Linked DNA regions of Homo sapiens. The protein of the gene in region 4 purifies or fractionates together with the protein of the main gene of each other region. This does not show direct contact. Each region holds a gene or a part of one and is shown on either strand. Other genes may lie near its edges. The genes, in order: RPL36AL, CHD8, NOL6 and IKZF5.

What was found.
Region 1: the proteins of IKZF5 (region 4) and RPL36AL purify together in Homo sapiens (affinity purification with mass spectrometry; 2 studies listed by BioGRID and IntAct, with this or other methods). This does not show direct contact.
Region 2: the proteins of IKZF5 (region 4) and CHD8 purify together in Homo sapiens (co-immunoprecipitation; 3 studies listed by BioGRID and IntAct, with this or other methods). This does not show direct contact.
Region 3: the proteins of IKZF5 (region 4) and NOL6 purify together in Homo sapiens (affinity purification with mass spectrometry; 2 studies listed by BioGRID and IntAct, with this or other methods). This does not show direct contact.

Annotation. Positions count from the first base shown.
Region 1 is NC_000014.9:49,618,007-49,625,370, forward strand, and holds RPL36AL (ribosomal protein eL42-like), read right to left. Parts: upstream 2,621-7,364; 5' UTR 2,556-2,620; intron 1,135-2,555; 5' UTR 1,099-1,134; coding exon 778-1,098; 3' UTR 524-777; downstream 1-523. Other genes in the region: MGAT2 (alpha-1,6-mannosyl-glycoprotein 2-beta-N-acetylglucosaminyltransferase precursor), read left to right, coding at 3,263-4,606.
Region 2 is NC_000014.9:21,397,116-21,404,138, forward strand, and holds part of CHD8 (chromodomain-helicase-DNA-binding protein 8), read right to left. Parts: intron 6,549-7,023; coding exon 6,338-6,548; intron 6,098-6,337; coding exon 5,902-6,097; intron 5,389-5,901; coding exon 5,221-5,388; intron 5,022-5,220; coding exon 4,842-5,021; intron 4,399-4,841; coding exon 4,288-4,398; intron 3,957-4,287; coding exon 3,760-3,956; intron 3,498-3,759; coding exon 3,298-3,497; intron 3,193-3,297; coding exon 3,036-3,192; intron 2,956-3,035; coding exon 2,866-2,955; intron 2,591-2,865; coding exon 2,487-2,590; intron 838-2,486; coding exon 708-837; intron 287-707; exon of another isoform or gene 178-286; intron 1-177. UniProt on the Homo sapiens protein: ATP-dependent chromatin-remodeling factor, it slides nucleosomes along DNA; nucleosome sliding requires ATP. Acts as a transcription repressor by remodeling chromatin structure and recruiting histone H1 to target genes.
Region 3 is NC_000009.12:33,470,917-33,478,661, forward strand, and holds the start of NOL6 (nucleolar protein 6), read right to left. Parts: upstream 3,009-7,745; 5' UTR 2,927-3,008; coding exon 2,873-2,926; intron 1,822-2,872; exon of another isoform or gene 1,593-1,821; intron 1,497-1,592; coding exon 1,290-1,496; intron 1,205-1,289; coding exon 1,088-1,204; intron 1-1,087. UniProt on the Homo sapiens protein: Part of the small subunit (SSU) processome, first precursor of the small eukaryotic ribosomal subunit.
Region 4 is NC_000010.11:122,991,796-122,998,818, forward strand, and holds part of IKZF5 (zinc finger protein Pegasus), read right to left. Parts: intron 6,877-7,023; 5' UTR 6,831-6,876; coding exon 6,698-6,830; exon of another isoform or gene 6,227-6,697; intron 4,382-6,226; coding exon 4,199-4,381; intron 2,929-4,198; coding exon 1,985-2,928; 3' UTR 1-1,984. UniProt on the Homo sapiens protein: Transcriptional repressor that binds the core 5'GNNTGTNG-3' DNA consensus sequence. Involved in megakaryocyte differentiation.

The DNA.
Region 1 (7,364 bases), on a different chromosome or scaffold from region 4:
TACTCCAAGGCTAAGGCAGGACCTACAGAGCTACAGAGCCTGAGAGGCCACAGTAAGCCATGAATGTGCCACTGCACTCCAGTGCGGGTTACAGTGACAGATTGTCTCAAAAAAAAATTTTTTTTTGAGTACCTCCCAGAGTGTTCTAAGAGGTTCAAAAAACAGTTTATGCTATCTTGGACTTTCACTAGATTGAGAACTTTAGTGTGAAGTCAATTTTGAACTATCCTTTTATATTCAAGGCCACAGTCTCTAACAGTACTGTCCAAAAGAACTTTCTGCGGTGGAAATGTTTTACATCTGTGTTGTCCAATAAACTAGCCACACGTGGCTGTTGAGTACTAAATCTGACTAGTGTAACAGGAAACACATTACCTGGCTAGCGGCCCCTACTAGACAGAATATTTGGTCAGCTCTTACTATCCCCCAACTTCCATCCTTTGCCCAACCCAGCCTGCTATACACAAGCCTAGCGTTATCTTGTTCCTTCTCTTGCAAAATCTTAAAGATCCTTCTAAGCTGCTCAATGTTTATGAATTCATTCAACATTTGAAATTGACCAGAAAACAAAAAGTAGTAAAGTAGTATTTTCCCTTCATACATATATAAACTTGTTAGTAAAGTTTGAGGTGGGACTACACTAAACATGGAATTCTATTTATAAGTAAAAACCACAAAAAGTTTGCGTAAGAATATCACTGTATTTATTTTCCCTCGGGTAACTTTTCTATGGCTTCACCATTTTCTCTTCAAAATTGAAGAAAAATATCCCAAAGTTTAGAACTGGATCACTTGGCCCTTTCTCTTCTTATCTCCTCCCAGTTCAAAATGCTTGCATCTCTTAATGGCCAGCATCCTCTTGGATCTGCAGTTAGGCTCAACACATTCCAGCCTTAGCACAATCTTCTTTGTGGTCTTAGCCTTCTTCCGGAAAATTGGCTTTGTCTGCCCACCATAGCCACTCTGCTTCCGATCATAGCGCCTCCTTCCCTGGGCATACAAAGAATCCTTGCCCTTCTTATACTGTGTCACTTTGTGAGGCTGATGCTTGCCACACTTCTTACAGAAGGTTCTTCGGGTTTTAGGTACGTTGACCATCTTTGCAGCAGGGCTGTTTTGTCTATATGATGAAAACTGTAGTAAAATATTTAAAATAAGATAGCAGACGTTAAACATTCCGAAAAGTGAAAGTGCTATACAAGTATATACAGGAAAACCGTACACATAAATGAGTAATATATAAATCCACCACGTACTCTTTTTCCATATGAATAAACGCACATACAAGTACATACCTTTTTGAAACACTTCGTTTAAATTACTGGAGGACTAATTTGTCGACCTAAAGAACTGAGGCAAGGCCGAGCACGGTGGCTCATGCTTGTAATCCCAGCACTTTGGGAGGCCGAGAAGGGCGGATCACCTGAGGTCCGGAGTTCGAGACCAGCCTGACCAACATGGAGAAACCCCGTCTCTACTAAAAATACAAAATTAGCCTGGCGTGGTGGTGGTGCATACCTGTAAGGAGAATCGCTTGGGCGGGGTGGGGAGGGGCGGAGGTTGCCGTGAGCCGAGATCGCACCATTGCACTCCAGCCTGGGCAACAACAGCGGAATTACGTCTCAAAAAAAAAAAAGAACTGAGGCACAATTCATATAAGTAGAATGTTTATTTGGGGCAAGTTTGAGGATTGCAACCCAGAGCACAGATTCAAAATGCCCTGAGTAGCAGCAGTTGCAAGTGGGTTTTTAGAGGAAAAAATGGCAGTTCCTAAATTGTCTACCAAGAATTTACATTAAAATAACACAAGCGATTGATTGGCTATACATCATTCTTTTCATGACAAATTCCAGGAACGCGGACATAATGGGTGAAGCAGCTAGTCAGGAATAAAATGCCAGGCATTAAGTGGGGAGGTGTCTGAAGTCCCATACTGCTGTCTCTCTGGGCCCGGCAAATTTTGCACATCTCAAATAATTAACAATGCTCCGAGCCATTCTTCTTTTCTCATATAGAACAAGACTCACGAAAACCGACAGCAGCAGCTTTAGGAGGCCCAATACAGTCCGTTTTCCGTACGAAATGAGTTTAATTTATTGTGACTGCTCCAAAAGAAAAGTGCGGTTCATCTAATTTTCTTCCGAAAAGGAAGTTAAGGACCAGAGTTTCTTTGACCCCCTTCCCCCCACCCACCTCCTCCATTTTCCAGCTCTAGAGAATGGCTGGGGCAGCGCGCGACGTTGTAGCTACGGTTACGACCCGCCCCGTTCCTTCTACGAGAACCACATCAGCGTAGTATCACTTTTCCCCTCCGAAGCACAGTCACCCGTCAGCAGCCTCGAGGGCTGACGTGTCCTTATCAAGCCGGCGCGCCCCGCGATTCTATAGCCGCCATGCCTGAGACCTTTTTCCTGAAGGGAGAAGCCTGCTCTCGAACTAAGGCCGGCGAGGGCCATAGGTCTCGCCTTCCCTTTCCTAAGAAGGCCTAGTCCTACCCAGGATTCTGAGCAAGGGAGGCTCCTATTGGAGCCGCTACAGCCTCGTTCTTAGCTTACCGAGAAACAGCGCCCGACACCTGGCCCTTCGCAGCTCTCGCCTTTCGCAGCTCTCGCCTAACAGGAAAGGGAAGAAACAGGCGGAAGTGGGAACTGCACCTGAGCGACAGTACTGCAAACCAATAGGCAGCCGGCCACGGCGGTCAGGCGCCTTCGGTCGCGTCTGGAAAGCACCAACCAACGGTCTAAGGGGCGGGCCGGAGGGGTGTGGGCCGGAGGGCCGCGGTGTGCCGCGGGGCAGTTGCGGGTTGTCATAACGGTCCCCGCCGGAGTGAGGCGAGGCCGCGTCGCTCAGTTCTGGCCGTCTAGGGCCCCTGTAAGGATGAGAGCGCAGAGGACGCAGGGCCGCTGGAGGCGCAGGTAACGAAGCTAGGGTGCGGTTGGGACCGCGGCTGAGCTTTTTCCGGGACCCGTGGTGCTGAATGGAGAGGACGGAGACGAAGCCGAGCCGCGGCTCCTAGCGGCGGCGCCGATGCTCGAGCTGTAGCTGCCAGGCGAGGATGTGTGGAGCGCAGGCGGCGCGGGGTAAATGAGAGGTCTCGGGCCCCAGGACCCCCGGGGCCCGGGATGAGTTAGCGAGGGCAGCCGCGGGGGCCAGTTCCGACCGTGACAGGCCAAGGCGACGGCCGCCGCCCGCCCGCCCCTTCCGTGCAGAAGCAGCTGCTCCTTTCCGCGCCCGCCCGCCTGCGCTCCCGGCCCTGGAGACCATGAGGTTCCGCATCTACAAACGGAAGGTGCTAATCCTGACGCTCGTGGTGGCCGCCTGCGGCTTCGTCCTCTGGAGCAGCAATGGGCGACAAAGGAAGAACGAGGCCCTCGCCCCACCGTTGCTGGACGCCGAACCCGCGCGGGGTGCCGGCGGCCGCGGTGGGGACCACCCCTCTGTGGCTGTGGGCATCCGCAGGGTCTCCAACGTGTCGGCGGCTTCCCTGGTCCCGGCGGTCCCCCAGCCCGAGGCGGACAACCTGACGCTGCGGTACCGGTCCCTGGTGTACCAGCTGAACTTTGATCAGACCCTGAGGAATGTAGATAAGGCTGGCACCTGGGCCCCCCGGGAGCTGGTGCTGGTGGTCCAGGTGCATAACCGGCCCGAATACCTCAGACTGCTGCTGGACTCACTTCGAAAAGCCCAGGGAATTGACAACGTCCTCGTCATCTTTAGCCATGACTTCTGGTCGACCGAGATCAATCAGCTGATCGCCGGGGTGAATTTCTGTCCGGTTCTGCAGGTGTTCTTTCCTTTCAGCATTCAGTTGTACCCTAACGAGTTTCCAGGTAGTGACCCTAGAGATTGTCCCAGAGACCTGCCGAAGAATGCCGCTTTGAAATTGGGGTGCATCAATGCTGAGTATCCCGACTCCTTCGGCCATTATAGAGAGGCCAAATTCTCCCAGACCAAACATCACTGGTGGTGGAAGCTGCATTTTGTGTGGGAAAGAGTGAAAATTCTTCGAGATTATGCTGGCCTTATACTTTTCCTAGAAGAGGATCACTACTTAGCCCCAGACTTTTACCATGTCTTCAAAAAGATGTGGAAACTGAAGCAGCAAGAGTGCCCTGAATGTGATGTTCTCTCCCTGGGGACCTATAGTGCCAGTCGCAGTTTCTATGGCATGGCTGACAAGGTAGATGTGAAAACTTGGAAATCCACAGAGCACAATATGGGTCTAGCCTTGACCCGGAATGCCTATCAGAAGCTGATCGAGTGCACAGACACTTTCTGTACTTATGATGATTATAACTGGGACTGGACTCTTCAATACTTGACTGTATCTTGTCTTCCAAAATTCTGGAAAGTGCTGGTTCCTCAAATTCCTAGGATCTTTCATGCTGGAGACTGTGGTATGCATCACAAGAAAACCTGTAGACCATCCACTCAGAGTGCCCAAATTGAGTCACTCTTAAATAATAACAAACAATACATGTTTCCAGAAACTCTAACTATCAGTGAAAAGTTTACTGTGGTAGCCATTTCCCCACCTAGAAAAAATGGAGGGTGGGGAGATATTAGGGACCATGAACTCTGTAAAAGTTATAGAAGACTGCAGTGAAAATCACAGTTACAAAAGCGACAGTCTTCTATTTTTGATATTTGTCCAAACAGGACATACAATTGAATAAAAGAGTTTAGGAACTGGTTTCTGCTTTAATACAAAAACAAAATCTTGTAAAAGGTGTCCAAATACATAGTAATCTTTTCCAGTTATGTCTGATTAAGATTTAAAACTGAAGGTTTCATTTTGGGAGTAGGGTTTTAAAGCTCAATCTGTTATCTGCTAAAATTGATTATTGTTGATATGAGAGAAGAGGGGAAATTTTATTTAAATTGCATTTATTAATCTTTTTATCTGAAACTTTGTACACTTTTCCACTTTCAAAACCTATTTTAAGTACAGCAAAATTTATTTAAAACTGTCATAGCAGTAAAAAGTATTACGATGAAATTGTTAGGGTATTAATGGAACAAACCCAGTTTCACTCTCTTGACACACTTATTAGGAAGGGATTGCTTCACTGGTTTAATAATTTAAAAGTTATGTTTGTTAAACACCCTGTCAGAACAGTCATTTTCAGTATTAGATTCCTGTACTATTGTGTTTTGAGTGTGTTTTGGAACCTTCATAGAACACACTTTCTTTTGGAATGTATTTGATTGATAAGAAAGTTTAAACATTGTTTTCACCTCAATGTAGAAATACAGTGGTTTTGTTTTTTTTTTTCTTTTAGTGCTGACAAAATAAAATACTCATTTTTGCATAAAAAGGTTCCTAATCCTTTTGCAGAATAAGTTTTGTTTACTCTTTATACCAAAATTCAGTGAAGGCATTCTACAAGTTTTGAGTTAGCATTACATTTTAATATTTACTATTGCTACATTGTATAATTGAGTTTGAAATAAAACCCAGCTTATGACAATGCATTCCCTGTGCAAGAAACTGTTTGGCTTTCAAATTACCCAGGCATTGAAAATGAATGATAAAAAGTTGCTGTGTAAGGGAAATACAGCCTAAATTGTTTTTGAAAGCCAGAAATGATACAAAGTTCAGTCATGCCAAAGTGAAATACTTTCTAGTGCCAGCTTTAACTTAAATCATACGTTTTAAAAGGACAGATACAGAAAATTATAGGAAACAGGCTTAAATTTTGCTCCATATTTAATGTAGACGTTTATAGAAGTTTCCCTTAATTTGTAATTGCATTCAACCGAGAATTTCTCATAAAAGACTAATTTCTGTGTAAAGATATTACGGGCTGGGTGTGGTGGCTCATGTCTGTAATCCCAGCACTCTGGGAGGTTGAGGCAGGCAGATTGCTTGAACTCAAGAGTTTGAGACCAGCCTGGGCAACATGGCGAAAACCCATCTCTACTAAAAATACAAAAAATTAGCCGGGTGTAGTGGTGCATCTGTAGTCCCAGCTACTTGAGAGGCTGAGGTGGGAGGATCCTTTGAGTCTCGAGGCAGAGGTTGCAGTGAGCCTAGAGCGTGCCACTGCACGCCAGCCTGAGCAACAGAGCAAGGCTCCATCTAAAGAAAAAAAAAAAAAGTTACTTAAACTTGTAACTATTAAATGGCAGTCTCAAAATTATTGCATCAATTTAAGATTCATAGTAGTTTAAGAGCACATATGCTTATCTAAGGTGAGGCAAATAGTTCTCTTGCTTTACGAGCTACCTTTAGACTTACCCACGGCCCAGTCTGGTGCAAGATTTTGCCTGGGGGTTATAAATAAGGGTGAATCAGGAGGCTTTGTACCTATTTCTGGTACTCTGACCTGACATCACTAGTTCAAAGAACTAAAAAATTAGGTTATTTCCAGGACTGAGCTAAGAAGGCCAGAGTGTGAAGTAGTAGCTGTTTTTGAAACAAATAGATCAGCTCCTGGCTTTGGGGTTAGTGATTAAATCAACAAATATTTCCCTTTCTGTATTTCCTTCCTTTCATTTTCTTTGGCTGCCCTAAAATTTTTTGTAAGAAAAAAACCTGTTAGGATCTTCTCTTTGCCTCACATTTTAGGTGTTATAAAGGAAATTGATTATGCAGGAGGCTGAGATGAGAGGATCACTTGAGCCTAAGAGTTTGAATCCAGTCTGGACAACATAGCAAGACCCATCTCTTAAAAAAAAAGAAAGTGATTAGGAAACACTGGCTTTTTTTTGTTTTTCTGTGTAATAATGTAATGAAGGCAATTTTCCTATCAGAGCAAATTGCCAGATTTTAAAAATTCCAGTTTTACTCTTAAATTTCTATAAAACCACAAGATGTTTTAATATTTCAATAACTTCTAAGAAATACTTCAAAATTGAATTTTGAAAATCATTACTAAATAACTAAATCTATTATATATACTTTATGTAACAAAAATATATATAGTTTGTGTGACAAAATATAGAGCTGATGAAAAGTACTACATTTTATCTGGTGAATTTGTATCGTAATTGTTTAGATTAATATTGGTTAGTAAAGTTCTTTCCCCTCTAAGCTCTATTTCAAGCTTAAATATGTCCTACTTAGTGAGACTGAGAAACAGTTTTGAAATTCTACCCCCCACACATGTACTTATAATTCCAGTTAAATGCATTCTTGAGAATTACTTTGTGTGACAAACACAATTAGTGAATATTTTTAAATTTTATTAATGACAAAGCAAAATTTAACACAGAAGTATATATACATAGGTTGTATTAAAACTAAATGTTTTAACTCTCAAATGTTTTAACTCTCAAATAGAAAACATACACATCTATTACAGGAATCACAAAACTTATCTCCATAAGGAAACTTTAAACTCCAGAGGCAAAAAAAAAAA
Region 2 (7,023 bases), on a different chromosome or scaffold from region 4:
GTTTTTATTACTGTGTTCTTCTGAGCAGACAGGTGGCATAAACGATTTGCAATGAATAAATAACCCAATTTCCTTTGAGGGTCCTACACTAGGCAAACTGAGGGTGTGATCGTCAAAGAGAAATTTCTCAGTCATGATGGAATGGGGAGGTATTCATTAAGCCAACTGTTTCACATGCCCCTCAGATCTTCATGTGAGAAGTTTTGTTAAACTCACTGGCACCCAAACCAGGGCAACACTGCCCTACCTGGTGGCTCAGTATTAGCATGGCAACTCATCATTGGGACATGTTTTCAGGCAAAATAAGTACCTTTATGTGTCAGGTACCATTGGGAGATGATAAACCAGGGCTGAAAGCGCCTAAGGCTCTTCCACAGAAGCAACGTATGAGAGCTGCTGGCTGTTATCTTTCAAGAGACCAGTTATCCTCTCAGCTACTGTAGCTGTACAGAAGAGTGTTGTAAACCAAACCAAATAGAACATCAAATAAGCCATTTACAAGTGACATTCATTTTCACCCTCAGATGTATCTTATGGCAACATGTGGTTTATGCAGTTTATGGAGTCCTTTCTGCTGGTCCTATTTTTGCTAAGGATCTATCACTTTTGAGTATAATTACAATTAAGAATCCCATTGGGTTCAGTCAAGGCTAGAGTTATTTCACGGCACAAGTTAGAGTTTTAAAAGAACAAATACTAATGCTTACCCTTCTACTATGTCAGAGAAGTTATCCAACACTCGATGTTCTGCTGCAATTGCTTTGTCATCTGGTCGGCCAGCCTTTTCTAGGAAACATAAGGCTGGGTCTGCCCTCATGGTATTATATTTCTCATAGCCTAGAAGAAAAAGGGTCATAGTTGAAGAAAATGAGATTTGTTTTGCCTTTATGCTTACTTTATATGCTGCTGGAATAATTAGAATATGTTCTATATTGCTCATAATGGAAAACAAAGTTAGAATGTTATCTTGGACAACTACTGGGTTTATTACTATATTTAACATTTTTATAGCAATTTAGAATCATGAAGAGTTTTTAACTAGTGACTGATAGCCTTAGGCTCCCAAAGTGTTGGGATTCCAGGTGTAAGCCACCATGCCTTGCCTGCAGTTTTATTTATTTTTATTTATTTATTTATTTTTTGAGATGGAGTCTCACTCTGTCGCCCAGGCTGGAGTGCAGTGGTGCGATCTTGGCTCACTGCAAGCTCTGCCTTCCAGGTTCACGCCATTCTCCTGCCTCAGCCTCCTGAGTAGCTGGGACTACAGGTGCCCACCACCACGCCCAGCTAATTTTTTATATTTTTTAGTAGAGCCGGCGTTTCACCGTGTTAGCCAGGATAGTCTCAATCTCCTGATCTGCACACCTTGGCCACCCAAAGTGCTGGGATTACAGGCATAAGCCACCATGCCCAGCACCTGCAATTTTATTTATCCCATTAAACGTCTCAAAAAAGATGTAGATTAAGTGCCATTACTTTTATTTTATAGAAAAAAAAGTATTCTTTTAAAAAAAAGACATTCTAATTCACAAAGTCACTTGGCTGAAAGTTAACGCTTACTGTTTTTAGTGCCTGGGATTTGGCATTAGGCAAAACTGCTATAAGAGTAAGGAAATATTCTTACCCCCACTGCATTTTTGTTTTGGCTAGTCAGTCTCCCTTCTTATACTCTACTTTTATTTCACTCAAAAACTGCTGCCTCATACCTATATCAGAGAGACTGCTGAACATTTAGACAAATGGGACATGTAGAAAAACAGAAGATTTTCAGCTCTTTCTCTTTAGTGAGGCAGCCAAGCTGACATAGAGATGCAGATCTCTGTAAAGACCCTCACAGGCAAAACCATCACCCTTGAGGTCCAGCCGAGTGACACCAGTGAAAATGTCAAAGCCAAGATCCACGACAAGGAGGGCATCCCACCTGACCAGCAGCATCTGATATTTGTGAACAAACAGTTGGAGGATGGCCGTACTCTTTCAGACTGTAACATCCAGAAAGAGTCCACCCTGCAGGTGGTGCTTTGCCTCTGAGGTGACATTATTGAGCCTTCCCTCTGCCTACTCACCCAGAAATACAACTGCGACAAGATGATCTGCTGCAATTGTTATGCTAGTGCACATCCAGAGGAAAGTCATATAAATTAAGTGTGATTATTATTAACAATAGTTGGGGTATATTACCTGCCCTGATTCATGGGACCCTAACTTACCATAGCATACAGTGCGGTAACACACTGCTAACAGTGATTAGAGAACAGATGGGAGGCTCCCTACCTTGAGATTTACCTATCCATCTGGCCCTTCTTGAACATCTATTTATAGGAACTAACTGCTCTGCTCTGGATATTTAAGAACTACTTTCCTACTCAAATTTATTGAAGATCAATCAGATAACTGAGTTATTTCTCAGGAGCATTTTGCTAAATGTTCCATCCGTGAACATAAATCTTCAGTCGGAAAGGAGTAGAATAGGAGAAGATACGTACCATGTTTAAAGACTCCAATGAGCAGCGACTTGTCAGCCTCACTGTCCCACCAAGTTGTTGGAACCTCCAGTTGATCCACTACTGGGAACCATATGTCAATCTCACTAAAGGTATAAGAGGGCAGAGTCAGCACAGAAATGCAGGAAATTAAAGTGAGAATCCTTGCAAAGGTTATTATAGGTATCTTCCTGTATCCATTAATTTAAATACTCATGCATCTACCCTATTTCCTCCCACTAGTGTCAAGTATAAGATTAAAGACCTGATATATAGATTTAAATTATCAGGTATCCCAAAGATAGCATAAAATGAAATAAGCAAACCAATCTTCCCTCAAATAAGGTAGGGCATAAATCAAAAAAATATAGCAGAATTTTACCTGGCAATCGCACCCCCTAACACCTTTTCTGCTTGGTCTCCAATAACCTCCTGCCTCAGGTAGTATAGCATTCGTACCCGCAACAGTACCCTAGAAAGGACAGAGGAAGAGCTGGCTCAGTAACACTGTAGAAGTTTGAGGTGGAAAATGTCTGCTAATTCTATGCTTACTTGTTACACTGATGTTTCAAGTGCTTCTTATAACTTTCATCTTGGAACAAAGTGTCAGGGTTATATTTCCGGATCCAATCTGCCTTATGGATATCAAAAGTGCTTTGTGACTTTACTTTTTTTCCTTTGCGTCCACGAGGCACAGGGATAGATAGACCTGGGAAAGGGGAGACATCAAAGACTTGGATTGAGAAAAACCCTTGGACCTGAAAAGGATTAGATTAACCTATAGAAAAACATAAAGTAAAGAGTTGATAATTACCTGAATGATTCTGCAATTCTTTTGTCTTGCCATTTTCAGCTGGGCTAATCAAGTCCCAGATGAAGCCTTTAATATTTTCATCCCCACGGTAGTGTAGAAGACAGTACACGAGAATGGCCCGACAAATGGTCTCCACATCTCGTTCAGTCATACGTCGCTTGAAGCGTCCATGAGATAAAATATCTCGCCATCGTCCCCAACTAAAAAACAGAAAACTATATTAACATTTTTCTGAGAAATGACAGTCCCCTGTCCCTCAGAATCATGTCTCTGAAAAGGTGTGAAACAAAGATCTTAAAAAACATGGTAACAGAATAAACAGAACAAACTCCCTCCAAGGCAAATATTTTTTCACATTATCCCTTCTTTGATCATAGCCCCCAATTTGAAAGGCAAACCAAGAGTATCTATCAGGATGGAGATGCACTATGCACTACCTCTAATGGTAAGTTGGGGTCTTACCCATATACCAGGAGATGCTTTTCCACCCGAAAGCAGTCAGTGCGCCCATAGGCATGATGACGGTCATGTCTGCGGGAGCGTGGCCGCTCATCATCCTCACTTTCCAAATCAGAGAATTCCACCAGGTCATCATCTTTCAGAGTGCTAAAGTGGCGCGTTTGTTTTCGTACTCTAGGTGTGTCAATTACCAAATTATTCTATGAAGAGAACAGAAGGAGAAGTAATTCTCTTCCTGATTTGCTCATGGGAAAAGAATAAGACAATTAGGGATTACAATAACATTGGATGTAACGTGTAGATACTCAGAGATTTTTTTAAATGACATGTAAAATAATCTACAGAAAGCAAAATTATTCAGAAAGCAACTACTTTTCTGGGGCCTCCTAGGTAGAAAGTATCCACAACAGCCCTTGTATACAATACACCATCATAAATCACAATTAGCATCAAATAATCAGAGTAGCTGTAAAGACTCCCGAAAGTAGTGTGGTCTTCTGCGATACTTCCTCCCTAAAAGAAGAAACTCACCTTGCTGTTGAGCAGATCCATGTCTAGGTCAGCCTTTTTGGCCCACTTTTGCCAAAAGTTGGGGTCATCCAAAGAAATATCTGTCCTGTTTTCAGAAGCAACAAAGCTTGCCTAGAGAAAAACAAATGCAGAGGTAAAGCTGACTTTTTTTTTTAAGTGGTGCAAAATCAGCAATTATGTTTTAAAAACATTTTTTTTTTGAGACACAGTCTTGCTCTGTTGCCCAGGCTGGGGTACAGTGGCACGATCTCCGCTCACCGCAACCTCCACCCCCTGGGTTCAAGTGATTCTCCTGCCTCAGCCTCCCGAGTAGCTGGGACGACAGGCGCAAGCCACCATTCCTGGCTAATTTTTGTATTTTTGGTAGAGATGAGGTTTCACCATGTTGGGCAGGCTGGGTCTCGAACTCCTGACCTCAAGTGATCTGCCCGCCTCAGCCTCCCAAAGTGCTGGGAATATAGGCATGAGCCACCATCCCCAGCATAAAAACATAATTAAATCCTAGAGATTCCGGTCTCTGTGTTTTTCTAGCCTCTGGCATAGACAGAACATGCCTTAGCAAAGGTGGAACCTTTTCCTTCAGATTCAATGGTGATGGTTGTAGTTCGTCTTAACAAGATCTGGTCAATGTCCTCTTCACAAAACTTGGAGCCTTCATCATCTTCCTCCATGATGGCTGCATATGCTCCTTTTCTTAAAAGATCTTCAATCTCCTTCTTAGAGAACTGTTGGATCTGTAAAAACCAATAGAAAGATGAAAAGACTATCAAGAGAATAATATCTAACCATGCCATAATATTTTAGCTATTATATTTTAAGAAATAATAATTGAGAATCCAAACAAGGTAGTCAAATCCCTGTGTACAAATAGCTTTTGTTTCCCTCTATCACAATGATCTACTACAAACTTATCTATAAACTAAGAGGACTCACTCCAGTAATGTTGCCATCCCGACCACTCATGGATTGAAGCACAGCCTTATCCAACCCCAACTTGAGGCTGGCCTTATCAAACATCTCTCTCTCGTAGGAATTACGAGTGATGAGGCGGTACACCTTCACAGCTTTGCTCTGCCCAATTCGATGACATCGTGCCTGGGCCTGGTTTAAAATAAAAACGAAAGGAAAGGAGAAAGATATCATAAAATTAGCAAGGGAAAGGATACAAAATACCAATTTATGATTCTTTCACCTCTATAGAGCAGCCATGAGATCAACTCAAAACCAAGAGTCAATTTCAAGATGAAATTATCACCCCATCATGTAGACCAGGGGTCAGCAAACTAAAGTCTGTGTGGACATCTGTTTTTAAAAATAAAGTTCAATGGGGACACAGGTGGGACCACCCACTCATTTACATATTATCTATGGCTGTTTTTGCGCTACAGGACTTGGAGATAAGCAGTTGCAACAAAGACTCGATGGCTCACAAAGCCTAAAACATTTACTGTCTTGTCGTTTACAGAAAACGTTTGCTGATTCCCTGACCTAACTGCCACCCTTAACTAAGGAAACAATTCCAAACTCTGTGAAAGGTCTTTCTAAAAGATCCTATTCTTGTTGAAAAATCTCCCAAGTTAGGTAGTTAGTCCCTAAGACAATGAATTCCTTTACCTGCAGGTCATTTTGTGGATTCCAGTCTGAATCAAAGATGATGCAGGTATCAGCAGCTGTAAGATTAATACCAAGTCCACCAGCCCGGGTACACAGTAAGAAGACAAAGCGGTCTGAGTCAGGCTTGCTGAAGCGGTCAATGGCAGCCTGTCGAAGGTTGCCTCTAACTCGCCCATCAATACGTTCATATAAGTACCTGTATGGGAATCGCAGAAAAAAAATGTAAGTGGCTAAGCAGAAGTGGAGACCAAAACAGCAGGCTAGGATCAATACCAGTACTCCCATATCAAAGCTGGTCAAAAACCCAAGTTGAGAGTGAGAATCTTAAAAACTTCTCTTATTGCAATTGGTGAACTCTAATTAAATCCAGGCCCTCCTACTTTTTGCTGCTTTATGAGGACAGAGTAACCACAGGCTAGGATGACTCTTTTCTTACCTCCTCTGGATTAAATAATCCTCTAGGATGTCTAGGCAGCGCACCATCTGAGAGAAGATCAGAACTTTATGGCCACCAGCTTTAAGCTTTGGAAGCAACTTGTCAATAAGAACCAGTTTGCCGGCTGAACGAACCATGGCCTGCAGGTGAAAGTCATGAGGTATAATATGGCAAGCTTCACGGAATTCTGTTAGGATTTTTTCTTCAGCACCTGCCAAAAGAAAAATCAAATTATGTTGAGATCCAGTGAACCATATTAAGGTTGTAGTCTATTTAACTAAGAAAGCAAAAGGAAAAAAATGTAATTTGACTTAAGACCAACATTTCTCACACACAGAATTTCAGCACAAAAAAGTCTTAAATCGGCTGGGTACGGTGGCTCATGCCTGTAATCCCAACACTTTGGGAGGCCGAGGCAGGTGGATCACTTGAGGTCAGGAGTTCGAGACCAGTCTGGCCAACATGGTGAAACCCCGTCTCTACTAACAATACAAAAATTAGCCAGGTGTGGTGGCGGAGGCCTGTAGTTCCAGCTACTCAGGAGGCTGAGGCAGGAGAATCGCTTGAATTCGGGAGGTGGTGGTTGCAGTGAGCTGAGATTGCGCCACTGCACTCCAGCCTGGGTGACAGAGCGAGACTCCACCTTAAAAAAAAAAAAAAATCAGCCGGGTTCAGTGGTTCACGCC
Region 3 (7,745 bases), on a different chromosome or scaffold from region 4:
CTACTTTTGACACAACAGCCGGAGTAAATTTTTCTAAAACTAAACTTTTTAAGGCTGGAAAAGTGAACGTTTTAGGCTGGGCACGGTGGCTCACACCTGTAATCCCAGCACTTTGGAAGGCCAAGGAGAGCAAATTACCTGAGGTCAGGAGTTCAAAACTAACCTGGCCAACATGGTGAAACCCCCTCTCTACTAAAAATACCAAAAAAATTAGCCGGGTGTGATAATCCCAGCTACTCGGGAGGCTGAGGCAGGAGAATAGCTTGAACCCGAGAGGTGGAGGCTGCAGTGAACTGAGATCGCGCCATTGCACTCCAGTGTGGAGGACAAGAGCGAGACTTCGTCTCAAAAACAAAAACAAAAACGTGAACTTTTAAAAGTTAGAGGGCATCACTGTTCTGCAAAATAAAATCCAGCAGTGGCTCCCCATCTCACCCAGAGCAACAGCCAAAGTCCCTACTTCGGGACACAATGCCCTGCATGATATGCTACTTTTCCCCATCACCTTTCTGAACTCATCTCCTTCTGTATTCCTCATTCATTCCAAGGAATGTAACTGGAACATTCCTGCCTTTGTGCCTTTGTACTGGCTGTTCCCCCTTCCTGGAATGCTTTTATTCCCTTAGATATCTATATAGCTGACTCACCTACTTCAAGTCTTTACACAAATGTCACTTCAATAAGGCCTACTTTGTGAACACCCCCTTTAAACTTGTAAACCACTCCCATCCTCTAATACTCCCAATCCCCTTACATTGCTCGTCCTACTTTTTCCTTTTTCCAGTGTTTACCACATTCTAACATTGCCATAGAGTTTACCTGTTATGCTTATCTATTAACTATAACCTCAGCATTACAGCATAGGCTATTATTTACTGATATATCCTAAGAACACAAATACTGCAAGGCATGGAAGTACTTGCTGAATGAATACACAAATGACCACGCTCCCAGCTAAGCTTCCTTGCTGTGAGAATGAGCTCCCTGCACCCCAACCCTTAAACAGAGTAACAGCAAGGCCCCTGTTTGATATACCCCCACTGGAGGTCTCTCTTGGGCTTCCCAGTTCCCCAGGCCACTTGCTTACCTCTGTCTCAGGGACTGAGGGCACCCTCACAACCCGCTGGTTGACCTCCCGTAGGAAGGCATCAATCCGATCCTTCTTCTTCTCTGACAGCCTTACTTCCTTTAGTAGCTCCTCTACCTGTAAGAGAGGGTAGAAGACAGTCCATCAGCCTCAGGGTCCCAGGTACACACCTCGAACAAAAGCTGCAGACACTCAACAGTACCTGTAAACGAAGCAAGCTGGAGTGGAACAAGATCTCAGTCTCCCGAAGGCGATTAAGCTCCTCATTGGTAGGCTCCTTGTACAGTTCTGCCCTGCTGAGCTTCACTGGCTGCAGGAGGCCCTTCGCTGGAGGTTCAGCCAATGTACGCTTCCTGGAGGATGCTTTCTTCCCCTCTTTGCCTGTGCCTTCCAGGGCTGGTTCCATCACCTGTGGCCAGTGAGGGAGAAGCCATTTTGAGGTAATAGGTATCTAGCATCTGCTGCCTAAAGTGCCACCATGATAGGTTGTGGGTAAAAGCTTCACCTGCTCTGTCCCTCTTTTGAGTAGGAGTCAGATTTTGTAAAACTCAGGAGAATCGTTACTTGGATGAACATCACTGAGCGCTGAGCCGAAAATTCCTTGAGTTAAGAGCTCTCCTGTCTACCTGACACCACAAGCATGGAGCTCTGTTTGGAATTGGTAGTGATAGAAGCTGACTGGGCCCAGGCTGGACACGGTGGCTGACGCCTGTAATCCCAGCAGTTTGGGAGGTGGAGCTGGGCGGATCAGCTGAAGTCAGGAGTTCGAAATCAGCCTGGCCAACATGGGGAAACTCCGTCTCTATTAAAAATACAAAAATTAGCCAGGTGTGGTGGCACATGCCTGTAATCTCAGCTACGCGGGAGACTGAGGCAGGAAAATCACTTGAACCCAGGAGGCAGAGGCTGAAGTGAGCCGAGATCGTGCCATTGCATTCTAGCCTGGGCAACAGAGCAAGACTGTCAAAAAAAAAAAAAAAAAAAAGAAGCTGACTGAGCCCTGCCCTAAGTAATGCCCAGGCCCCTTGTATTTTCAGGAAGTTTCCTCTTCTGCTGATATAGGCCTGGGACTTCTCAAATGTCTTTCCCATTCTCGCTCCAACCAAATCCTGCCAGGTTCCACCTCCTCTAGGAAGACCTGACTGCCTCAGTTTACACTAAATACTCACTGATGGAAGGAGCTAGAACCGACTGGACCCCAGAGGACACATTTAGCAAGTCATTAAATCCTCAAAATAATTCTTGAAGACACTTGAAGTCCCACTATTCACTCGAGGTTCCACAACTGGTACACCCGTACTATGAGCAGGCTTCAAAGGCAAGCGTGCAGGATCCCAAACCTTTTCCCCTACAGCCGTGGGCCCATCCGCTCCACGATGCCTCTCATCCCAGAGAGCCTTACTGGAGCGCTCCAGGAGAGGCACCGTATGCCCTCCGCTACAGCGGGGAGCACAGAACTGGACACAAATTCTGTGGAGGAAGATCCCGCTTATCGTCAAGGACCACCAAATAAAAGAAACGACCCAAGTGTGGGTCTCTTCAACTTTGAGGTGCAGAGCTCCAGAAGAGAGCAGAGGCTCTACCGGCTTCACTGCTTCTAACCAAATACTGCCAGGTTCCATCACCCCTAGCAAGCCCTGTCTCAGTGCCACTGGCTGGAAACATCCTCCAGAATGGGCCGCCGGCATGGCTTTCACCCGCAAGCTGTCAGATCACGCCATCTCGGGCCCTGCAGCCAAGGGAGCGCACATTGAGCCTCTGTTCCTCCCCGATGGCTCAACCCACCTCTGGCTCTCCAGTCGCTCCGCGAAGCTGCTCTCCAGCTGGCGCCGGCCCCATCACTCAGGGTCCAGCACTCTCCCGCACTTCAGATTCTAGCCGGGTCTATACCTCATAGCTTCCCACGTGGGCGGAAATGCCTAACTCCAGGCCCAAGTCCAGCCCACCCCAATTCCTCAGGACTCCACCCACTCCAGAGCTATTGGATTATCAGTCGATTACTCGCTTGCCATTGGCCGGGCAGTCTCAAGGCCCGCCCATTAGGGGAGGGGACAAACGGGTTTCTGTGCTTTACGGCCTCTTCGCGACGCTAGAACGGAAGCCTGCCCGTAGCTAGGCCTTTGCTTTCTTTTCCTCACTTCCTTCGCGTGGCTGCAATCGGGAAGGGCGGAGCTAGTTTGTTCCTTTTGGTCAGGTTTGTTTACAGCAGTTATTCCTCCCTTTTTCTTTATTTGCTACACCTTATCAGTTAACAAATCTTGTCAGTTCTACCTCCAAAACATACCTTGAATTTATTCATTTTTCTGTGTCTTCACTGCCAGGTTTAGCCCGTCACATCATCTTGTTCCCGAATTATTGTTATGACTTTTCTCCAGTTTTTACTTATTACTTAGCTTATTACAATTTCAAGTAATTTAGTTATTTTTATTTATTTATTTATTTATTTATTTATTTATTTATTTATTTATTTTTGGAGTAGTCTTGCTCTGTCGCCCAGGCTGGAGTGCAGTGGCACGATCTCAGCTCCCTGCATCCTCCCTCTCCCAGGCTCAAGCGATTCTCGTGCCTCAGCCTCCTGAGGAGCTGGGATTACAGGCAGGTACCATCACACCCGTCTAATTTTTGTATTTTCACTAGAGATGGGGTTTCCTCATGTTGCCTAGGCTGGTCTCAAACTCCTGACTGCCAGTGACCCGCCCACCTTGGCCTCCCGAAATGCTGGGATTACAGGCCTGAGCCACTGCTCCCGGCCTATTTTTAAACTATTAAAAATTTAAAACAAATGTTGCAAGAATAATATAATGAATGCGCATATACTCTTCACCTAGATTCACTTAGTGTTACTATTTTGCCAAGTTTATCTTTACCTATGTATTTACATATTATTTTGCAAAACCATTTGAAAACCAATCACACATCTCCCTAAATACTTAGGTATGTATCTACTAAGATCAAGGACTACCTCTTATGTAAGCACAGCCCGATTATGAAATTAAGGAAATTTAATCGTGATTCAATACTAGTATACAAATTCCATCTTTAAATTTTGTCAGTTATTCCAGTAATAACCGTTATATGTTTCATTTTATTTCCTAATGCAGGATCATCTAAATTCAACTATTACCATATAATATATATATATATATATATATATATATATATATATATATTTTTTTTTTTTTTTTTTTTTTTTTTTTTTGAGAGAGAGTGAGTGTCCCTCTGTTGCCCAGGCTAGAGTGCAGTGGGTCGATCTCAGCTTACTGCAACATCCACCTCCTGGTTCAATTGATTATTGTGGCTCAGCTTCCCAAGTAGCTGGGATTACAGGCATGCGCCAACACACCAGGCCAATTTTTGTATTTTTAGTAGAGACAGAGTTTCACCATGATGGCCAGCCTGATCTCAAACTCTGGCCTCAAGTGATCTGCCCTCCTCAGTCTCCCAAAATGCTGGGATTACAGGGGTGAGCCACCGTGCCCAGTCTAAAAATTTGTATTGAAGTACAATATACATAAGGAAAAATGTACATATCCCAAGTGTAAAGCTTGAATACTAACAAACCAAACATACTCATATAGTCAGCTCCCAGAAAATAAGCAGAACATTTCCTGCACCTTCAGAATCTCCCCTCATGCTGCCCTCTAGTAACTCTGCCCCCAACAATCACTATTCTGACTTCAAACAGTGCAGGTCAGTTTATACAATAGCTTTTTTATTATTTATTATTTATTTATTTATTTATTTTTTGAGACAGAGTCTCACTCTGTCGCCCAGGCCGGAGTGCAGTGGCACGATCTCGGCTCACTGCAAGCTCCACCTCCCGGGTTCAAGTGATTCTCCTGCCTCAGCCTGCCAAGTAGCTGGGACTACAGGCGCCCGCCACCACGCCCGGCTAATTTTTTGTATTTTTTAGTAGAGACGGGGTTTCACCGTGTTAGCCAGGATGGTCTTGATCTCCTGACCTCATGATCCACCCGCCTTGGCCTCTGAAAGTGCTAGGATTACAGGCGTGAGCCACCGCGCCCGGCTATGCGATAGCTTTTTAAGGAAGTTTCAGAAGAGCGGTATGTCCATTTTCAATTCATTTTCCACACAGCTGCCAGAATTAGTTTTCTAAAATAGAAATTCTATCATGTCACTTCCTTTTAAAAACTCATCAGTGTCTTCCAATTGTACTTAAAACTAAACACAAACTTCAACTTCCATAAAGTCATGATCAATATGGCCCTTCACTTGCTATTCCTTCTTTTTATTTTATTTTATTTTTTTTTTTTTGCGACAGAGTCTTGCTCTGTCACCCAGGCTGGAGTGCAGAGGTGCAATCTTAGATCACTGCAACCTCCGCCTCCCAGATTCAAGCGATTCTCTTGCCTCAGCCTCCCTAGTAGAGTAGCTGGGACTACAGGCACATGCCACCACACCCGGCTAATTTTTGTATTTTTAGTAAAGACAAGGTTTCACCATGTTGGCTAGGCTGGTCTCAAACTCCTGACCTCAAGTGATCCGCTCACCTCAGCCTCCAAAAGTGCTGGGATTACAGGGGTGAGCCACCTTGCCCAGCTATTCCATCTTTTTTGTGGGAGAAGAGGGGCAAGTTCTCGCTCTGTTGCCTAGGCTAGAATACAGTGGTGGAATCACACCTCAGCCTCCTGAGTAATTGAGACTACACACGCGCACCACCATGCCTGGCTAATTTCTGTATTTCTGTGTAGACTTTTGCCATGTTGCCCAGGCTGGTTTCAAACTCCTGAGCGCAAGGAATCTGCCGGCCTCGGCCTTCGAAAATGCTGGGATTACAGGCATCGGCCACTGCCTGGCCCTCATCATTTTTCTTGCTACTCCACCCCTGGTTCCCTGAGCTACAGCAACATCAGCTTTCTTTCAGTTCCTTCGTTGTATTAAGTTCTTTCCTAACTCCGGGACTTCACCCAAGCTGTTTGTTCCATTTGGAATTTTGCTTTCTTGGCTTTTTCTCCTTTTCATCTTTCACCTCTCAGCATAAATATCACCTCTGGACTCAAACCATCCTCCCACCCCAGCTTCCTGGCTAGCTGGGACCACAGGCGTGCACCACACACTCGACTAATTTTTTGTAGAGACAGGATTTCACCATGTTGCCCAGGCTGGTCTCAAATTCCTGGACTCAAGTGATCCTCCCACCTTGGCCTCCCGAAGTGCTAGGATTACAGGCTTGAGCCACTGTGCCCGGCCAAGGTCTTAACTAAAGTCCTAAAATATGTTCTCTAAACAAATATAGATATGTTTTCTTTCTTTTTTTTTTTTTTTTTTTGAGATGGAGTCTTTCTCTGTCACGCAGGCTGCAGTGCAGTGGCAAGATCTCAGCTTACTGCAACTTCCACCTCCCAAGTTTAAGTGATTCTCCTGCCTCAGCCTCTGGAGTAGCTGGGATGACAGCCACATACCACCACACCTGGCTAATTTTTGCATTTTTAGTAGAGTAGGCCACCATGTTGGCCAGACTGGTCTTGAACCCCTGTCCTCAAGTGATCTGCCCTCCTCTGCCTCCCAGAGTACTGGGATTACAGGCGTGAGCCACCACGCCCAGGCTGTTATGTTTTCTCTTTCTTTCTCCCTCCCTCCCTCCCACCCTCCTTCCTTTATTTTCTTTTTTCTTTTTTTTTTTTTTTTTTTTTTCTGAGACAGAGTGTTGCCCTGTCGCCCAGGCTGGAGTGCAGTGGCAAGATCTCAGCTTACTGCAACCTCTTCCACCTCCGGGGTTCAAGCAATTCTCATGCCTCAGCCTCCCGAGTAGCTGGGACTACAGGTGCACACCACCTCGCCTGGCTAATTTTTTGTATTTTAGTAGAGACAGGGTTTCACCATGTTCCCCAGGCTGGTCTTGGACTCCGAACTCAGGCAATCAGCCCACCTTAACCTCCCCAAGTGCTAGGATAACAGGCGTGACCGACCACGCCCGGCCTGGCCAATATGTTTTCTAAAACGTTTCTCTTATATCATCCATTTTCCTTTTAGTGCTTTTTACAATTTCTGGTTATCAATTGTCTCTCCTTTTGTTTTACTTTTATTTATAAATTTATTACTATTTTTTTAGAGACAGGATCTCACTGTCACCCAGGCTGCAGTGCAGTTGTAGCTCACTGCAGCTTGGGATACCTGGGCTCAAGTGATCCTCCCAAGTAGCTAGGACTACAGGTATATGCCACCATGCCCAGCTAATTTTTAAATATTTGGTAGTGGTCTTGACCTCAGAATCTCAAACAATCCTCCCTCATCAGCCTCCCAAAGCACTGGGATTATAAGCATGAGCCACTTGCCCAGCCCAGTTGTCTCTTTTTGCCCTTGACTGTGAATACGTGAAAATGAGGACCATGTGTACATGCCCAATACCTAGCACATTGTAGGTACTTAATAAATGTTTACTGAATGATTGTGACCATAGTCAATCCTTTCCGTCTTTCCTTTAACCATTGTCTCCCTCAAATTTTATGCCCCAGTTGCATTGAACTATTTGGGAGTTTTCTTACTCTAATTTGATTTATTTCCTGGGCCTTTGACCTTGCTGCTCTCTTTGCTCAGAATGTTTTGATTGATAAGATTTACTGGAGAAATGGAGCTTGTGCTAAGTGTTGAAGCATGGTTTGAATTTGAATTGACAGAGGGGAAGAAGCAGCATCAT
Region 4 (7,023 bases):
GCACCTTCACAACATCCATGGTCAGTTGTTAGAAAAAAATGCATTTGACAGAATACAGAGTTAATAAGCTGGTTTTAACAAGGGAGTTCTCTTTGTTTCATGAAAATTTTCATTTTCTATTTTGGGGTACTGCTTTTATCTGAAGAATAAAAATGGGAAAAAATAACCACAAAAACTTCCAAATGACAACCTGTTTCTTTCTGGCAACTGATAAATACTAAAGCCAAGTTACACACTTGGAAACTACTGCAGTAAAATGGATCTGAGCAGTCTGTGATTTAAACAACAATGTAACAGAATTGTAGAATTTTAAAGTACAAGATTTGACAAAGAAGAGAGTTCCAGTTTGGAGAAAGTGTCCTTGATGCTGCTCTTTAAACAATGCAGTAGCTTAGACTGGATGCTAAACTGCAAGAACTCATTACAGTGGCTTTCTAGCATCTGAAAGGGAAAGCAGAGATTCCATTAACTTGGCACTTGGGGGTTTTGTGGGTACATACCACCAATATTTCCCTTTCCTTTACTATTAGAGTTCTTTTTTGGTTAATAGATGCTTACTATTCTCTTTAAGATGCCAATTAGGGGCACATTCAACATATGAACAAAATTAAAAATAGAATTTTTGCAAAGTACACAGAAAAGAAACCAAGTTAGTAACAATGTATTTTATTGTTTGACCAAGCTCTCTTCAGAGTACGTGAGTTATTACACAATATAAAAACAATAGCCTCCTATTCAAAATGAATTACTCTATATTTAGTAAGTCTTATTTTTATAAACAAATTAAATGTCATGTTTAGATGCATTTTATATTCACTTCCACACCTTTTTATCCTTTCTTACTAAAGCGATGATTTAGTTTCTACACAGTTTCGTCACTGTACATGAAGACTGGTAAAACTGCAAATAAGAATTACAATTTGAAGTCACAGAAAATATTTTAAATGGCTAATTCTGAAGAGGAGACAAGAATCCATTTTGGACATGTTCTCAGTTTTGTAAATATGACTTCACTATCACATTCTCTCATGTGTTTCCATACCCACCTTTTCTTGGAAATTATGGGCAGAAAATGGATAGAAGGAAGGAAAAGGAATCTTGAGAAATTTGTTTGGAGGCTGCATTTTAATAATAAGGATGACTTCACTTTATCTCTTTGGTCATCAAAGGAATAGGAAGAATAAGAGATTCTCATTATAGTTATCCACCTCACCTAACAGTAATGATATCAGAATGAAGGATTTAAATGAAAGTCAAACTGACAGGGGAAAAAGGCATCTAGCACTCTAGTGTATTTACCTGTGAAAATAAAAATCCAGTGGAAAACTGACATGTGTTTAGACATTGAATAAACAAGTTATTTTAAATATTAAAAGAATTTTCAATTTCAAGTCTTAACTGTTTTACATTTCCTCTTGTGGAAAAAAGAAAATTTTTACTAAACTGAAATAGCTTTACTATTATCAGTTGAAATGAAACTACCGATTCAACTTAAGGAATGTGAACTAAATGATATTTCAATTAATAGCAATTTTTAAGGCAATTTCTGTACTAAACACTGAAATGAGTAGTAATAAATTCTGTAATTTATTCTACCATTTTGAAATATGGCAGAAATAACATCCAGTTCAATGCATATTGAAACATCAAAAGTATGGATAAGCCTTGAAGTTTTTATGGACCATAAATGTGAGAAATTCAAATGAACATCTTGTAAGATTATGACTGCACTCCAATTCTCCAATGTCGAAAGGAAAGGAAAAAAGAGACACCAATGTGTCTAACTGTTCTAATATATAAATGACCCTGACCAGATTTTTATGAAAAAAAGGGGAAATTTTATTCCACTGACAAATTTATATTCTATAAATATAATGTATAAGCCTTGAATTAGCAGACACTTTATTAGGGATGACCAAAACAAAAAACAAAAAAAACCAAACCACAAAAACAGCAAAACTAAGTAAAATATGACTATTTTCAATCAATGTTGGTTATGTTGCCCTCTTGCAAAATGACAGGCAAAATCATACTTGTTTTTACATTTGCATCCACATATATTACACTGAAAAGGATTTTCATACCCATGACATCCCATATGAATAGTGTAAAGGATGTTGTCTGCAAAGTACATATCACAGTGCTGGCAGTGGTGCAGAAGCTGAGGGTCCTGGACCGGCAGGGCTGGGGCTGGGGTGCTTGGCTGGCTGTTTCCTATGCTGGGAGTGCTCGTGTGGGCACTTGGCTCACTGCTTGGACCTGCCACTGGACTATAGTTCCTTTGACTATGGGATGGCCGAGGTTCTGGGCTTGTGGGAGAGGAGCTCTGAGGAATACTTGCTGATACGGCAGAAACTACTGCTTGGGTAGAGGGCTGCTGAATCATGAAAGGCTTTTCATCAGGGCAGGGAACTACATCAGGGGATGCAGGGTTTTGGTTTTCGGGTGGCAGACTGGACAACTGCCCTGCTAGAGTCGAGAGCTGATTCAAAGGGTTATCAACCATGAGTTCTTGGGGGTCCCTTGGAAGGCCACCAGTTGGTGTGGTTTTTGCCATACTTTCATAGGAGTCAGTCTGGATATTTGGGATTTCGTGGGTAAAATCGTTAAGGTAGTCTGGTTTCTGAACCACCATGGAAGGTGGACTTAAGTTGATTAGTGCTCTTCTGCTATAGCCCAGATTGCTTGTTTTCTTCTGTAAAACCCCCCACATTTTCTTGCTGCTTAAGGAAGACCTAGTACCTTTAATTGGTACCATTTTATGCTTGCGCCTTCGATGATGGGACAAGTTACTTCGATCACTGCAGCGGAAGGAACATAATTCACATTTGTATGGTTTTTCTCCAGTATGAGAACGCATATGGGCTTCCAGATGACGCTCATAAGCAGATGCAAATGGACAAAGATGACATCGATGAGGTTTTTCACCTGTTTCAAAAGAAAAATGATGGAGAAACTACAAGAGTAGTTCATTTATGGAAAGTTTTGCTTGTCCATTCATTGGACAACTGGAAATTGATCAAAAAGAAAATGCTTTCAGAAAGTCATATTTGCATAGCATATGAGATTGTTAAAATTTGTAAATAAACCCACAAATTGAAATAAAGCTTAAGAACTCATCAGCAACAACCTGAAATATGCATTGATGTTGTATTAGTCAATACAGTATAAAAACTGTTATGGCTTCGAATGCATTTAGAGAGAAGAAACAGTACAATTGAAATATTCTAGTAATAGTCTTACATAATAATGAGTTTATCAAAAGTATGTCTCAGTTATATATTCATGTATACATTTATATACATTCATATTCACACACACACATATGCATACCCTTTGCTCACAGAAAAAAAAATACAAAAAAAGCTTTTTTTAAAGTCCTTATATGAAATAGAAAGCTCAGAATTGAAATGGGCTTGCTAGTCTGAGTTATGCAAAGCATCCCTTCAAAATTGCTAGTGCTTCTCCTCCATCTTCCTACTCTTCAGCTGCCAGAAGGAACAACTATAGTTAATGTTGTTAACTGAAGACTGCCCAATTATGTGAAATAAACATTTGGAATATGAGATTTAGAGTCATTCATCTAGTAAGTATGTGTCACATGCCCTCCTAGGCTCTGGGGGTACAAAGATGGTCTTGTCACAATTGCCCTGTCCTCAAGAGGCTCTCAGGCTACAATGATGTGATGAATGAGCACAGGATGCATGAAGCACACAGGAAGGACGTCTGACCTGGTCTTGGGCAGAGGGCAGATGTAGTTGGGAAAGTTTCTCAGAAGGGACAGCTAAAGTGAGATCTGGGATTAGCAGTACCATCTGCAACTGTATACTTTCTGAAACCTTTCCCCCTTTCGGCAAATGAAACGTAATAGGATAAAGATTAAAACATTTTATCACATCGCAGTGCTTTAGCATTATTCCTTCCCAATCTGAGAGGCAGGCAGATGTTGAGAGATTATTTGGATCAAGAGGGAAACACGGCTAAGGAAGGAGAGGATCTACAAAGGGCATCACTTCTGACCTGTTTGTATGTTGTTATGTTGTTGCTTTGAAAAATGGAGTAACTTTCCCATTTATTCGAACTTTACATAAACCTTCATTTTTGAATATTAAAACTATTTCTATGACAAACCAACCTGCCCCCCTTGGCCCCTCTCCTGCCCTCACAGAAATGCTTTTTCCAGCTGTCTTTCCATTACCTGTGTGGATTCTGATGTGTTCAATAAGCCGGGCTGTTCCTTTGCTGGCATAGTTGCAGTACCGACACTTAAGCTTCCCATCAAAGGTCCTTTCAAACCCGTCTACTAACATTCCTGAGTTTTCATCCAAGGAAACTTCAACAGATGGGTGATCAAGTCCATTTTGATCACCATCTGTTCCAGCTATAAACAAAGTACCGCAAAAGAAATTATGCATCTCAGAATCAACTCAATTTAGCATTTCAGTTTTAAGTGGTTGAAAAATCTTATAAATTGACAGTTCACTTCTCACAAAAGTTAAGTCCATTTTATAACAGACTTTCTGAACTGAGGCTAATTTTATACAAAAGCAGTAATACATTCTGTATTATATTCTGAGAACCTTTTATTGGGGGATCTCAAATTATTTACACAAGGCCAGTGCAGTGGCTCATACCTGTAATCCCAGAACTTTGGGAGGCAGAGGTGGGGGGATAGCTTGAGGCCAGGAGTTAGAGACCAGCCTAGCCAACATGGCAAAACCCTGTCTCTACTTAAAAAAAAAAAAAAAAATTACAAAAATTAGCTGGGCATGGTGGTGCACACCTGTAGTCCCAGCTACTCAGGAGGCTGAGGCATGAGAATCGCTGGAATCCAGGAGGCAGAGGTTGCAGTGAGCCAAGATTGTGCCACTGTACTCCAGCCTGGGCGACAGAGCAAGACTGTGTCTCAAAAACAAAGAAAACAAAATTACTTACACACACATTGTACTGGTCCTTAACATGTTTTTGAAGAAGTGAACAGGTGAGGAGGGAGGGGAATAAAGAGATTCACTGGAGAGTGATGGCACAGTTACACACAGGTGTTTAGCACCCTCGCTATTTCTACAACTGAAACTGGCAGTCAAAGAATCTCCAAAACCCTAACTCTATTTATTTTAGTCTGAAGCAGTGAATAAGTTTTCCACATCCCAGTGTTTATATGTACGTTCTAGATCTCTGTTCCATTTAGGATCTTAAAATTCTAATTAAGCCCATAAAGGAAAGTATCGTCCCTGATACCTCTGAAGGTTAAGGTTTTAAGAATCTCAGAGATAAAACATGTTTGGCTGTTTGCTTTTAATCTAATCTGACTACTTTTTTGTAGAAAGAAACTGAAGAGACCTGATGCTCATAATCAGGAAAATCGGCAAATGGCTGGGACTACAACCCTGGTCTCTTGAATCCTGTTTGGAAATCTGTGCGTTAGGAGGGAAATTTCCATTCCTACAGCTTCATGGGAAAAGGTCTACTCCATTTCAGGAGGTAACAGTCCTGGCATGCACAATTCAAGCCCCCTGCTTCACCGGTTCCTCACTCCTCACTAGGAGAAGTGATTCTGCTGGTTGAGACAAGACCAATATCCAAGAGGGCTACACTGCATTCGAGGGACAAGGCTCAGTGTCTTCCTCTCTCCCACTGCTTTCCCAAGCCAGTCACTATCACATTTTAATGTGTATGTGAATTACTTGGGGGATCTTATTAAAACACAGATTATAATTCAGTAGATCTGGGGTGGTGTCTGGTGTTTTGTATTTTTAACAAGCTCCCGGGTGATGCCTGGTCCCTGCTGCTAGTCCCTGCATTATAAGGCCGTACCCAGACTATCTAGGTCAGGGGTCAGCAAACTTTTTCTATAGGCATGAAATAGTAAATACTTCAGGCTTTGTGGGCCATATGGTCTCTACCACAACTGCTCAACTCTGCTGTTTTAGCAAAACAAACAAAAACAGCTACAGAAAATATGTAAACAAATGAGCATATCTGTGTTCCAATTAAATTTTACTTATGTGGACTCAAGTTTGAACTTCACAGAATTTTCATGTATCATTACATTATTCTCCTTTTGACACTTTTAAAACCATCTTTAAATGTAAAAACCATTCTTAGCTTGCAGGCCATACAAAAACAGCAGTCCAGATGGGGCCCACGGGCTATAGTTTGCTGACCTCCGAGCTAGGTTAGGAATAAATTCCAGTTTTTTGTGGCAAGCAAATTAGACAAAATTTACCTCTAGCAGGCTCAAGGAGGTCACCACTTTCTCTATTTTCATTTCTCTTCTTGGATAGGTAAACATGGTCAGCCCTTTCTTCATTTTAAGAGAGAAGAAACTGAAACCCCTATTTTTATCTCAGGTCGAATCCAGATTTCCTGATGGCCTAATGGTTTGTATAGTGAAGCTGATATTCCAATCCCCTTTGGGTTCTTTGTGTCTAATGGTAGCTCATAAAAACTGGAGGACAGGAAGGGTATTTGGAGCCCCTAACCTTCCAACAAGACCATAATGCATCTCCAGACCATGTTAAGTACTCTCCAGCAGAAGTCTGATATGTTTAAAAAAGGGGGAAAAAATGCCCTGTATCTTTCTAGAAAAAACAGAATGATTCACATTAATGCGCAGTGGTCTTCACAGTAACAGCTACACGCAATCATAGTACGTGTATAAAAAGTGAATTACTTAGTAGTATTAAAATGAGTCTACCTCCCTGAAGAGCCTCTGCTTCTTTGTCCCCACTAACTGATCCAGAAATCATGTTCACGTGATGGGTCTGCTGAGTCAGGTATTCCTGAAAATCTTTCACGAAGTCCAAAGGCTCTGGTTTTTTTTCACCCATCTTTGCTTTTTTAACATTTACAGTTTGTTAGACCTAGAAAACAAAACTGAAACAATTTTACACTATTTAGGGAGATCTAGTACATAGCAAACAAATGACAAAAGCTATTTTGTGCAAGACACTATATAAAGCAAGAGAAAACACAGTGCCTGCCTTTCAGCATCTTATAATCTTACTGGTGAACTAAAGACAT